3 linked regions of the Homo sapiens genome follow. The protein of the gene in region 2 purifies or fractionates together with the protein of the main gene of each other region. This does not show direct contact. Each region holds a gene or a part of one and is shown on either strand. Other genes may lie near its edges.

Region 1 (3,651 bases), on a different chromosome or scaffold from region 2:
AAATCATGACTAAGGTTGTGTGGAGATACAAAATACCATGACTCAAACACAATACTAACATTAAAATTAAGAGAACAGCACGTGGGATTTAATTGTAAGCAATAAAACTTACTGCAGGTCCTAGATTAAAGGACGGATTCAACCAACCAACAGGATGAAATCGATGTGGCAAAATTTGAAGAGACTAAGCATGATGTTTGAAGAGTTTTCTAATAAACTAATAATTTTCTAGTATTTTTTTCTAAGCAAATAGATTTCTATATTCTTTTAAACTACAAAATCAGTATAAATAAGATTTAAAAAATGTGTATCTTCATGGGGCAAAATCATACACACAAATATTTCACTTTTGTATTAGTTTTCATCTAACCACTTATTTTCTACTATTTAATAAGGTACAAAATTTTGGCCAGGGGCGGTGGCTCACACCTGTAATCTCAGCACTTTGGGAGGCTGAGGTGGGTGGATCATGAGGTCAGGAGATCGAGACCATCCTGGCTAACACGGTGAAACCCCATCTCTACTAAATATACAAATAATTAGCCTGGCATGGTGGCGGGTGCCTGTAATCCCAGCTACTCGGGAGGCTGAGACAGGAGAATGGCGTGAACCCAGGAGGCAGAGTTTGCAGTGAGCAGAGATCACGCCACTGCACTCCAGCCTGGGTGACAGAGCGAGACTCCGTCTCAAAAAAAAAAAAAAAAAAAAAAAAAAGAGTACATAATTTTACATTCTGATTTTTCTCTTACCATATCATCATTTCACTACCTTTTAATTGCTGCATCAAGTTGCTAAATCATAACTCTTCTTATATAATTCATATAACTCTTGTTATACTGCTGTACATGGGTTTATAATTTTTACTTTTACAGATAACATTTTGTATATAAAATAGCTGTTTTTTTCTTCTGCAGATTTAAGATATACTCCCAGGAAAAGAATTACTGGTTTAGCTGGAGTGTTTTGCTTTTTTTTTTCCCTAAATAGACCTAACAGATTATACTGGTACTGACTTCTTCAGTATAAGCTGTAGAGTCTGCCAATCCTCCCAACTCAGCTTCCTGAGTAGCTAGGACTACAGGCGTGTGCCACCAGGCCCAGCTAATTTTCTTTTATTTCTTTTTGTAGAGACAGGGGATTCCCTATGTTGCCCAGGCTGGTCTTGAATTCCTGGGCTCTAACGATTCATCTGCCTTGGCCTCCCAAAGTGCTGGACTACAGGCATGAGCCAGGGTGCCCAGCCAGGTTTATTATCTATCTTCTCAGTTCCTTTTCAAGTTGGCACTGACAAGAGGAAGAAATTAAGATTTGAAGAGGTAGAGAAGGGAACTTACATGGTCTGGTTCCAGCTGGCAGTGTCGAGCCAAGGCGTGAAGCAGCCTCTGAATGTAAGCTTTGAAGATGCCATGAATAACTTCATCGTTAGTTTTGTACAAATGTTCCCCCAGTCGGTACCAAAAGTTAAATGAAATTTCTACTACCTGTTAGGTTAAAAGAGATGATTTATTTGAATGGGAAAGGAATAGAATAAGAAGACATTTTATTATCACCACGACCATATAGGAAGAAAGATATATTTTTAAATAATATGAGTGGAGCCAGTTAAGAAGTCACCTTTTCTCTAGCAGATTTACTATTATCTCCCCAAATTGTCTTCCCACGTTAGGCCCAAATCTCCATTTAGAATGACTGGCTTTACATTCCATTTAGTCCTGAGGTAATGCCTCCAAAAGTATACTGAATTTTGAATTTAGAGAAAACAATAACAGACATGGAAGTCTTTATTTTTATTTATTTTTTAGAGACGGAGTTTCATTCTGTTGCCCCAGCTAGAGTGCAGTGGAATGAACACAGTTCACTGCTGCCTCAAACTCCTGAGCTCAAGTGATCCTCCTGCCTCAGCCTCCCAAGTAGCTGGGACTACAGGTACACACCACCAAGCTCAGCTAATTTTTTTTTTTTTTTTTTTTTTTAGTAGAAACAGGGCCTTGCCATCTTGCTCAGGATGGTTTTGAACTCCTGCCCTCAAGTAATCCTCCCACCTAGGTCTCCCAAAGTGCTGGGACTACAGGCATGAGCCACCACATAGTTTTATTTTATTTAAAACAAATTTCAGCCAGGCGCGAAACACCATCTCTAAAAAAATACAAAAATTAGCCAGGCATGTAGGTGGCACATGCCTGTATTCCCAGCTACTCAGGAGGCTGAGGTTGGAGGATCACCTGAGCCCAGGAGGCTGAGGCTACAGTGAGCTGTGATTGCACCACAGCATTCCAGCCTAGGCAACAGAGTGAGACCCTGTCTCAAAAGATATATATATTTTCTTTAGAGACAGGGTCGCCTAGGCTGGAGCACAGTGGCACAATCATGGCTCACTGCAGCCTTGAACTTCTGGGCTCAAGCAATCCTTCCACACAGCCTCCTGAGTAGCTAGGAGGACTACAGGCGCTTGCCACCATGTCTGGCTAATTTTTAAAATTTTCTGTAGCGACAGGGTCTTGCTCTGCCATCTAGGCTGGAGTACAGTGGTGTAATCATGGCTCACTGCAGCCTCAAACTCCTGGGCTCAAGTGATCCTCCCATTCAGCCTCCTGAGTAGCTGGGATGAAAGGTGTGCACCACCACACCCAGCTAATTTTTTAAATTTTCTGTAGAGACAAGGTCTTGCTTTGTTGCCCAGGCTGGTCTCGAACTCATGGGCTCAAGCAATCCTCCCACCTCAGCCTCCAAAAGTGTTAAGAGGTATGAACCTCATTAGAGGTATAAACCACTGTGCCCAGCCAGAAGTCTTTTTATTTTTATTTATTTATTTTTTTTGAGATGGAGTCTTGCTCTGTCACCCAGGCTGGAGTACAGTGGTGTGATCTTGGCTCACTGCAACTTCCACCTCCTGGGTTCAAGTGATTCTCCTGCCTCAGCCTCCTGAGTAGCTGCGATTACAGGTGCGCACCATCACCCCAGCTAATTTTTGTATTTTTAGTAAAGATGGGGTTTCATCATGTTGGTCAGGCTGGTCTTGAACTCCTGACCTTATGATCTGCCCACCTCGGCCTCCCAAGGTGCTGACAGGCGTGAGCCACTGCGCCCGGCCAGAAGTCTTTTTTAAAGTACTTTTCTGAAAATTCTGAAATCATTTCATTGAATGTTTGAGATTAGAACATTTCTTACTTGGCAAACCATCTGTAACTCCTGAACATAACTGATTCAGCTTCATGTCACTTTTATTCACCTGTTTCCTTGAGTGTGAGAGAAAGGGAGAAAAAGCCTGGGATTTTACTCGTAGCCTCTTTTCCATATGGTACTGTTTAAAGGAGTGATAACTGCGTGGTGTTACATTCTCCCAGAAATGTTTTGGGTTCCATTCAAATCTAGGTATCCTCGTAACATTATGTAAAACAAATAAACGTTGTCTTGTATGTGATAACAGAAAACAGGCCGAGAGTCACAGGACCACTGTGCCTAAGGCACAGTAAGAGGATCCCTACCATCCTTTTCCCATCAAGGATCCAAAACAGAGCTATTTAAAACAATGCCCAACTTGGGAGCACTTCTTTCTCACTTTTTTTTTTTTTTTTGAGACGGAGTTTCGCTCGTCTCCCAGGCTGGAGTGCAGTGGCCCGATCTCAGCTCACTACAACCTCTGCCTCCCAG
Region 2 (3,751 bases):
ATTGTTAGAGAAAATTCTTCTTCATGTTGAGCCAAAATGTGTGTTAACATAACCTCCACCCATTGGTTTCAGTTCCTGCCCTTTGGGCCCACAAAGAGAAATTAAAATCTCTCCTCCACATGACAGCCCTTTGGATAGTTGAATCCAGCAGTAATACACCCATCCGAGGCCTTCTCTTTTCCATCTAAACACTGCCAGTCTCTGTGATAGTTTTTCTGGTTGCTCATCTCTGAAAAGGCTCTAGTTTGGGGTGAGACAGAAGCTCTGAGCACGAAGTTGGTGCTCAGTAATAGGGGCCCTTGTTCCTTTGGTGGCCACTCCCCTTCTCTGCCATTGACCTTGGGAGGGACAGAATCCAACTACCGATGAGAGCCTCCCCCATGATGGAGCTGCTGGGAGCAGGCTCAGATCCCCATGTATGGGAAGGACTTTCTCTCACACACTCTGTTATTAGGCTCTGATGGAGGAGATGCTCTCGGTGGAGGGTGGAGTTGGAGTATGACCATCTGAATTAGAAGACTTGGAAAGGGAGTATTTTCACTTGGGGCCCCCAGTGCAGTTGTGTGCTTGGGCTAAAAGTCAGAAACCAGAGATTTAGCAAGACCAGTGCAAACGCCCCAAGTATGTGAAAGAGTATGTGGCTCGTGGATCCCCAGTCTGCCTTACCCAGCACAGTAAGGTTGATTAGCCCCAACCCATTGGTGTAGAAATCTGGTGGGTTGTTGACTTGGCAGAGGTAGGTTCCAGTATCTGAGGGGTGGACGTCAGTCAGTTTCAGTGTGGCCACCCCCACTGTGGGGGGGTTCTGAAGCAGGCTGACCCGCTTTGACTTAGAACCAGTTGGATACAGATGGCCATTGGTGAAGTACAGGATCTGGGGAGAGGCAGAAGACACACATATGTGCCTGTTTCTGCCTGGCATCAACTCTACAGTCCTTCCTCATCAAAGTGGGTATAAGAGGCCTCTGACTTACATCAGCCAGGGAGGCTGATACCCTTAAGCTGGAACTCCAAAGGTCTCTCTGTCCCCAAACACCACCCCCTTTCAGGTGCTAAATGAACCTGATCCATTGGTCTCTCTCTCTCTCTCTCAAAGAGAGAGGCAGAAGAGGCAGCATATTATCTTGGTATCAGTCACAACACCTTAGTGTCAATGGATACACTAAGGCAGGGGAGTTGGAAATAGGAGCTATGGAAGAGGAAAGGAAGATACACGGTCAGGCAGACTGCAGCTCTGAAAAGATCTAGGGAGAGCCCACTTACCTTTTCATCCAAGCATACTGATCCCCAAACTCCCCCTCCCGACCCCATGCCCTCATCCTGGGCTCCTGTCCCTCCAGGCCAACCCAGCTTCATGCAGTCGCTCTCAGCTCACTGGATGGGACTCAGAGATGGGTTTCCCAGGCTGCACAAAGCTCCACTCCAGGGCGAAGCTGTCTCCCACCGACGTGCTGTAGGTGCAGGTCAGCTCGGCTGTCTTCCCCAGGGGCGTGCTCAGCGGCTCTGTGGGTACCTTCACCTCCACGGCCAGCCCTGGGGCCGGGGACCAGAGGGAGGTGGGAACCCAAATTCCAGTGATCTGGAGGGTCGGGCCCACCCCCGGGCATCTATATTGGAAGCTGGGGGCTCCCTCCCCAGAGCACAACCCTCTCCCCTCAATCCAACCCCTCCCTTCCCAAAACCTGAGGTTTCCGGGAGGGGCCGGGTCTTTGTGGGTAAAAGAGCCGGAACCGGGCCAGGTAAGAGGGTGTGTGTGTTTAGCAGAGAAAGGAAAACACTAGCCCTGCGGTGGGGTGGTTCAGGCCTGTGCCGCGGAGAGGCCCAACTCGCTCGCCGGCTTGGGGGTCTCTCTCCTACGCCCTCCGGGCCTTGGACACCCCCTCTCCGGCCTCACCTCAGGCGCCTTAGGGCCCCTGGCGCCCACGGCAGCCTCATCTGGCCTGGCGGGGACAGAGTGGGTCCGAGGAGCCGGGGAAGCCAGGCCTATGCCCCCCAGCCCTCGCCGTGGTCCCGCCCGGCCCCTCCTCACCACTCAGGCACAGGAAGCCTAGCAGGGCCCCGCAGAGAAAGGGCCCCGGGAGCTCGGCCATGGCCGCGTCCGGCCGTCCTGTCCTGCTCCTGCCAGGTGGGCGGTCAAGGTCGGTCTGGGTGTCGGGCAGGGAAGGGAGCACCCAAGGGCAGCCGCCCGGGCTGGGCAGGAGCGAGACTGGTATCTCAGAGCAAACAGGGGAGAGGCCGGCGCCGCAGGTTAAAAAAAAAAAAAAGTGCTCCTCCCTCCTCTCCTCCAGCCCCGATTCTGCAATCCCTCTGTCCCTTCTTCCTCCTTCCTTCCTCTTCTCCCCAAGGTCTGAAGCTGTCCGGCCTTGGGAAAAGCGCTGGGCTTGGGGTGGGCCTTCTGCAGAGACGGAAGGAAAGCTGACTTTGGAAGGCGTCCTGATACCCCAGAGCTGGCAAGGGGAGTCCCCACCTCGGAGCCTCACTGTGAGTGTGAGCCCCAGGCCGCAGACCCTTCCTGTCCACAGCGCTTTTCATTTCACCACTTACTGAGGTAGGAGTCTCTGTAGAAATGAGCATCTCTCCATTTCCAGAGCCACTCCATTTTAGGGGCAGAGAAACTGAGACCTAAAGGAGACCTCACCCTTGGTAGGAAAGAACATGGCAGAACTTGGACACAGACCTGCACCTCATACTATGCCCAGCTCTCCCTCAGTAACAACAGAGATCTCTTCCAGATGGGCAAGGAGTGTTTTGTTAAGGATTCCGTGGTGTGGGAGAGGAGCCCACGTGAGCTTCCTCTCCCCTGTCCCTGAAGAGGAAGCAGATGAGGTACACGTACCCCCTAGCCGGGAGCACTCAAGCTCCAGCAGAAAGCGTATCAACTCCATCCCTCTGCTGTTCAGAGTAGCTTAGAGTCTCCTCCCCTTCTCCACGTGACAAACAAGGACCCTTCTAAACACTAGAAGAGCTGCTCTAAGCCTGTGGGGGGAAGCCCTCCTGGGTACACAGCTTGGGAAGGGGTCCACTTTGCATCCTCCTGAAGCTCAATTTCAAGAATTCTTAGTTTGAAAAGGCAACTTGTTTCTTATCTCATACAAACATTATGTATCTTTATTTAAATTTGCAAATGAAAACAACACATATTTCATGTTAGTTTTAATAAGAGATTCCCTATCCTCTGCCCCAGTAAAACCTAACCAAGCCAGCCTGACAGGTTATATCAATACAGGGAGCTGGAGTGGGAGCCAAGGGTGGTGTTAGATAGGGGTGGGGTACAGATCAAGGGGGCCTGGGAGACTCAGTGACTGGAAGTCTCTGCCCCTCACTCTTGGTGAGTAGCTAATTTCAGCAGCTGGCTTCATAAGGAGGAGTCAGGGGTGGGTGGAGGCTCCTCCCAATTCCAGATCCACTTCCTCTTCTCCTTCTGTCTCCTGGACACTTAGGTCTTACTGAGATGGTTTTCCCACAGTAAAGAGAGGTGGGGGCAGAGTACTAAGGGTCAGGAGTGTGACTCTTTCCCATGACTCAGGCCTCTGTGCTAGAGGTGACCCTTATAGGAAGGAGAGACCCCAAATCCTTTAGCCAATGAGTGGTGGGGTCATCATACCAGAGAGCCAGCTTGACTCTGGGCAGGCACCATCACAGGCACAGCACCCATGCGGCTCAAGCCAGAGGAAGAAACCCCACCAGGGATGGGGGATATTGGTTGAGGGTGGGCCCCATCTGTCGTGGGCAGTCTTGGTGAGGGCAGGGC
Region 3 (3,651 bases), on a different chromosome or scaffold from region 2:
TCTTTCCACACTCTTTCCAAAGACAAAGAAAATAACAGAGTTAAAAACATCCAGATGTATAAGATTGAGAGTCAAGAGACAATCAATGAAAATTAGGCAACTACCTAGTAATATTTAAAATATGATAATCTGGGAGTGGGCTGCTCTATTCATAAGGAAGGTCGGAAAAATACTCAGTATCCTCTTGAGGTCCCTGCCATTCCTATGATTCCAGAGCAACACACTTAACATTTAGAGTACTGACTGTACTCTACCTTTGCATTTCTGCCATGTCTCTCTCCTGTTGATGCAGTTTCATTCTTAAGGATGTTATTTCTTGCCGACAGAGCCTGTATCGTTCAGGGTCAATATTCCGACTGTTTCTCTGAGCAGCTTTTAGCTTTGCAATTTCTGCCTTCAATTCTGAAGATTTATACAAAGATGCATTAATAATAACATTTAATATATAACAATTTCCACAGTAAGCATAATCCTCCAATCTTCTATTTCATTTGAAGTTTTAAATACAGTATTACTAAATAAAATAGAATATTGGAGAAATCAGCTCTACTTTATATAACCTATAAATCTTTACTTAGTCTTAACCTGAAATATGCTCCCATATTAATGAACTTTCCCTGTTCATAAGTAGGAAAGCTGTATAATGTACTGACCAAAGTGGAACACTTTTGAGAGGCAAAAGGGTAATTGTTAAAGTGAAAGTTTATTTAAAAAGTAAAGAAATAAAAGAATGGCTATTCACTAGGCAGAACAGCCAAGATCAAAGATTTTTCAAGCTGGAATTCAGAATATTTATTTATTTATTTATTTAGACAGAGTCTCACTGTCTAGAGTGCAGTGGTACGATCTCGGCTCATTGCAACCTCCGCCTCCTGGGCTCAAGCAATTCTCCTGCCTCAGCTTCCCGAGTAGCCAGGATTACAGGTGCCCACCACTGTGTCTGGCTAATTTTTGTATTTTTAGTAGAGACAGGGTTTCCCCATGTTGGCCAGGCTGGTCTCGAACTCCTGACCTTAAGTAGTCCGCCTGCGTTAGCCTCTCAAAGTGCTGGGATTATAGGCATGAGCCACCATGCCCGGCCCAGAATACTTATTTTTAATGAAAACAGTCCCACTTGTGAAACAGAAGGGATCCAAAAGGGAAAGGATGGACCAGGATAGACAAATCAGATTCTTCTCTGGCTCATACATCTGAAGTGTCTATCACCTTCTGCTGCTAAAAAGGGCCAGAGGACAAAGGGGCATGAAAAGATGATAGTTCTACATCAGCAAAGATAAAACTGTACAAATCAAGATTTCTTGCAGGCATTAAAGTCTATCCTAAATTGATGATTACCTAGAGATAAATAGAAAGCAGTATTTAGCATAAATGAAGTTCAGCCTATACTAGAAACTCGAGCTCCAATTGCCTTTGGATCAATGAACTAAGCATGAGCAGAGCTAGTACATAAAACGTCAATGGAAGAGAGGTCATAAGAGAAAAATAGTAAATAGTTTTATTGGCATTTTGCTGCACACGTCTATGACTGTGTAAATTTATTGTTTAATGCTTACTGTTTCCCCCTTACTCACACTCTGTTTTCTATGTTCTTTTCCTAATTGTTTTTCTCCTTATTACTTATTATCTGTCCTTCTACCTATCATCCTCCATCACTATAGGCTGATGACTAGAATCTATTAAAATAGGTATAGAAAAACACCTTTGATGTTCATAAATTACATATTTTAAGACTGCAACTAATATCTGGGACTAAACTGTGGCAAAACAATTTTTAAATTCTGAGAAAATATTCACCTCTAATTAACTTAGCGTTCATATCTTCATTTACTTTAGCAATGTTGACTATTAAACGGGCTTGGTTAGCATATCTAAGTGTGCTTAATGTTTCTTCTATGTTGCTGGCAGCGGGACTAATCGTAGCAATCATTGCAGTTTTTGAATTTCCACCCAGACTTTCTTTTAACAGCCTACAAGAAAAAAAGTCATAAGACTTTGCTTCTACAACAACTTAATAACAGTAATTATCTAGAAAGCACAAAACAAACTAATAGGGTATATAATACAGTATTATTATACTCTACTCAAATACCATTTAAAACTTTTCTGGTATTTGTAACTATTTCTAGATCTCATAAACACTTTTTCTCTCTTACACTTTTTATATTGTTTCAAGAGGCAATAATCTGTGCAGAGATTCTAAAATGTGGTGGATCATCAAGTATTTCATGACTGTGAGCTACCATAGGGAAGGGACTATGTGTCTTGGTCATCTTTGTATTTCCAGTGCTACCACAACCTTTTGAAGCAGGTGCTCAATAAATGTTGAAAATGATGAACATTGAAACAAAAATTCTATATTGTACTAAAAGCAAAATCTTTATTTTAGAGAAAAAGAGTATGAGACTTAAAACATATATTAGTGCAGAATGAATGTCACTATTTTTAACTTTCATAAGACATGAAAAAAATCAGATTTTCCCTTATAGGTTTCAAGGTGGCAATCACATTGTAATAAACCAATTATAAAGACACATTACCCTCAAGTAAAGATGCAGTCCTTATTGTAACTGTATATTAATGCCTATCACAACTGAATATTAAATCCATACAGATGTAATCTGAATGTAACATATTGAAAATTAAATATACATTCACTAATGAAAACATTTATTGAGCACCCATGTATTAGTCACTGTGTAGTAAGCAAACAAAATTATTCAACTTCTCTTTATACAACTAGCAATATGTTTGGTAGTACCATATATGTTCAAACATCAGCCACAAATAATAGTTAAGTACAAGAACAGTTATTTACACTCATATAGTACATATTATGTATTAAGAATTGTACACTAATAATCTAATTCTCACTTACCCCTAAAAGGTATTGATTTTATTCCTATTTTACAGATGAGGAAACGGGCTAGAATATTAAGTAATTTGCCCAAAGTCACAGAGCTTATAAGATGCTGAGCTGAGATTCAAATCCAGGTAGTTTGGCTCTAGAATTCATAATGCTTACCACCTTTCTCCATCCCAAAGTTAATGAAGTCAGTCTATCATTCTTTTCCCCATAGTATTCACTATATTTTATACAATTCTTTATACTTCAAAAGATACTTGCCATGTAAGAACAGATTCACGATAAGGAATAAAAACACTCCTTTGGTTTGCTTGTTCCGAAAGTGCAGATATAACTTTTCCCAAAGTTAGCAAGGACTTATTAATACTCACACCTTCCTGCATGCAAGAAAAAAAAAATTTTTAACTTAAAATACTTCTCAGCAAGAAATTTATTTCACAAAATATATTTCTCCCCTCATATAATTACTGAGTAAATACTTTTTTACTTTCTTTTTTTTTGAGACAGAGTCTCACTCTGTTGCCCAGGCTGGAGTGCAGTGGCATAAACATGGCTCACTGTAGCCTCGACCATCCAGGCTCAAGCAATCCTCCCACCTGAACCAAGTAGCTGGGACTACAGACACATGCCACAATGCCTGTCTATAAATACTTTTTTCTATAAACTACCAACTTTCTTATGACTCAAACGTATTTTCTTTAAAAATTAATCATAACCAAAAAGTACGTATCTCTTTTTCAACCACAGCAATGCAGTCTATAAACTGCAGATAAAGATATATTTGGGGA

Evidence for each region.
Region 1: the proteins of VSIG2 (region 2) and TNPO3 purify together in Homo sapiens (affinity purification with mass spectrometry; 3 studies listed by BioGRID and IntAct, with this or other methods). This does not show direct contact.
Region 3: the proteins of VSIG2 (region 2) and KIF14 purify together in Homo sapiens (affinity purification with mass spectrometry; 3 studies listed by BioGRID and IntAct, with this or other methods). This does not show direct contact.

What each region holds. Positions count from the first base shown.
Region 1 is NC_000007.14:128,996,055-128,999,705, forward strand, and holds part of TNPO3 (transportin-3), read right to left. Parts: intron 3,237-3,651; exon of another isoform or gene 3,169-3,236; intron 1,482-3,168; coding exon 1,335-1,481; intron 1-1,334. UniProt on the Homo sapiens protein: Importin, which transports target proteins into the nucleus. Specifically mediates the nuclear import of splicing factor serine/arginine (SR) proteins, such as RBM4, SFRS1 and SFRS2, by recognizing phosphorylated SR domains.
Region 2 is NC_000011.10:124,750,048-124,753,798, forward strand, and holds the start of VSIG2 (V-set and immunoglobulin domain-containing protein 2 isoform 1 precursor), read right to left. Parts: upstream 2,209-3,751; 5' UTR 2,091-2,208; coding exon 2,030-2,090; intron 1,534-2,029; coding exon 1,376-1,533; intron 875-1,375; coding exon 667-874; intron 1-666. Other genes in the region: ESAM (endothelial cell-selective adhesion molecule precursor), read right to left, coding at 3,599-3,751.
Region 3 is NC_000001.11:200,600,102-200,603,752, forward strand, and holds part of KIF14 (kinesin-like protein KIF14), read right to left. Parts: intron 3,241-3,651; coding exon 3,125-3,240; intron 1,968-3,124; coding exon 1,795-1,967; intron 403-1,794; coding exon 255-402; intron 13-254; coding exon 1-12. UniProt on the Homo sapiens protein: Microtubule motor protein that binds to microtubules with high affinity through each tubulin heterodimer and has an ATPase activity. Plays a role in many processes like cell division, cytokinesis and also in cell proliferation and apoptosis.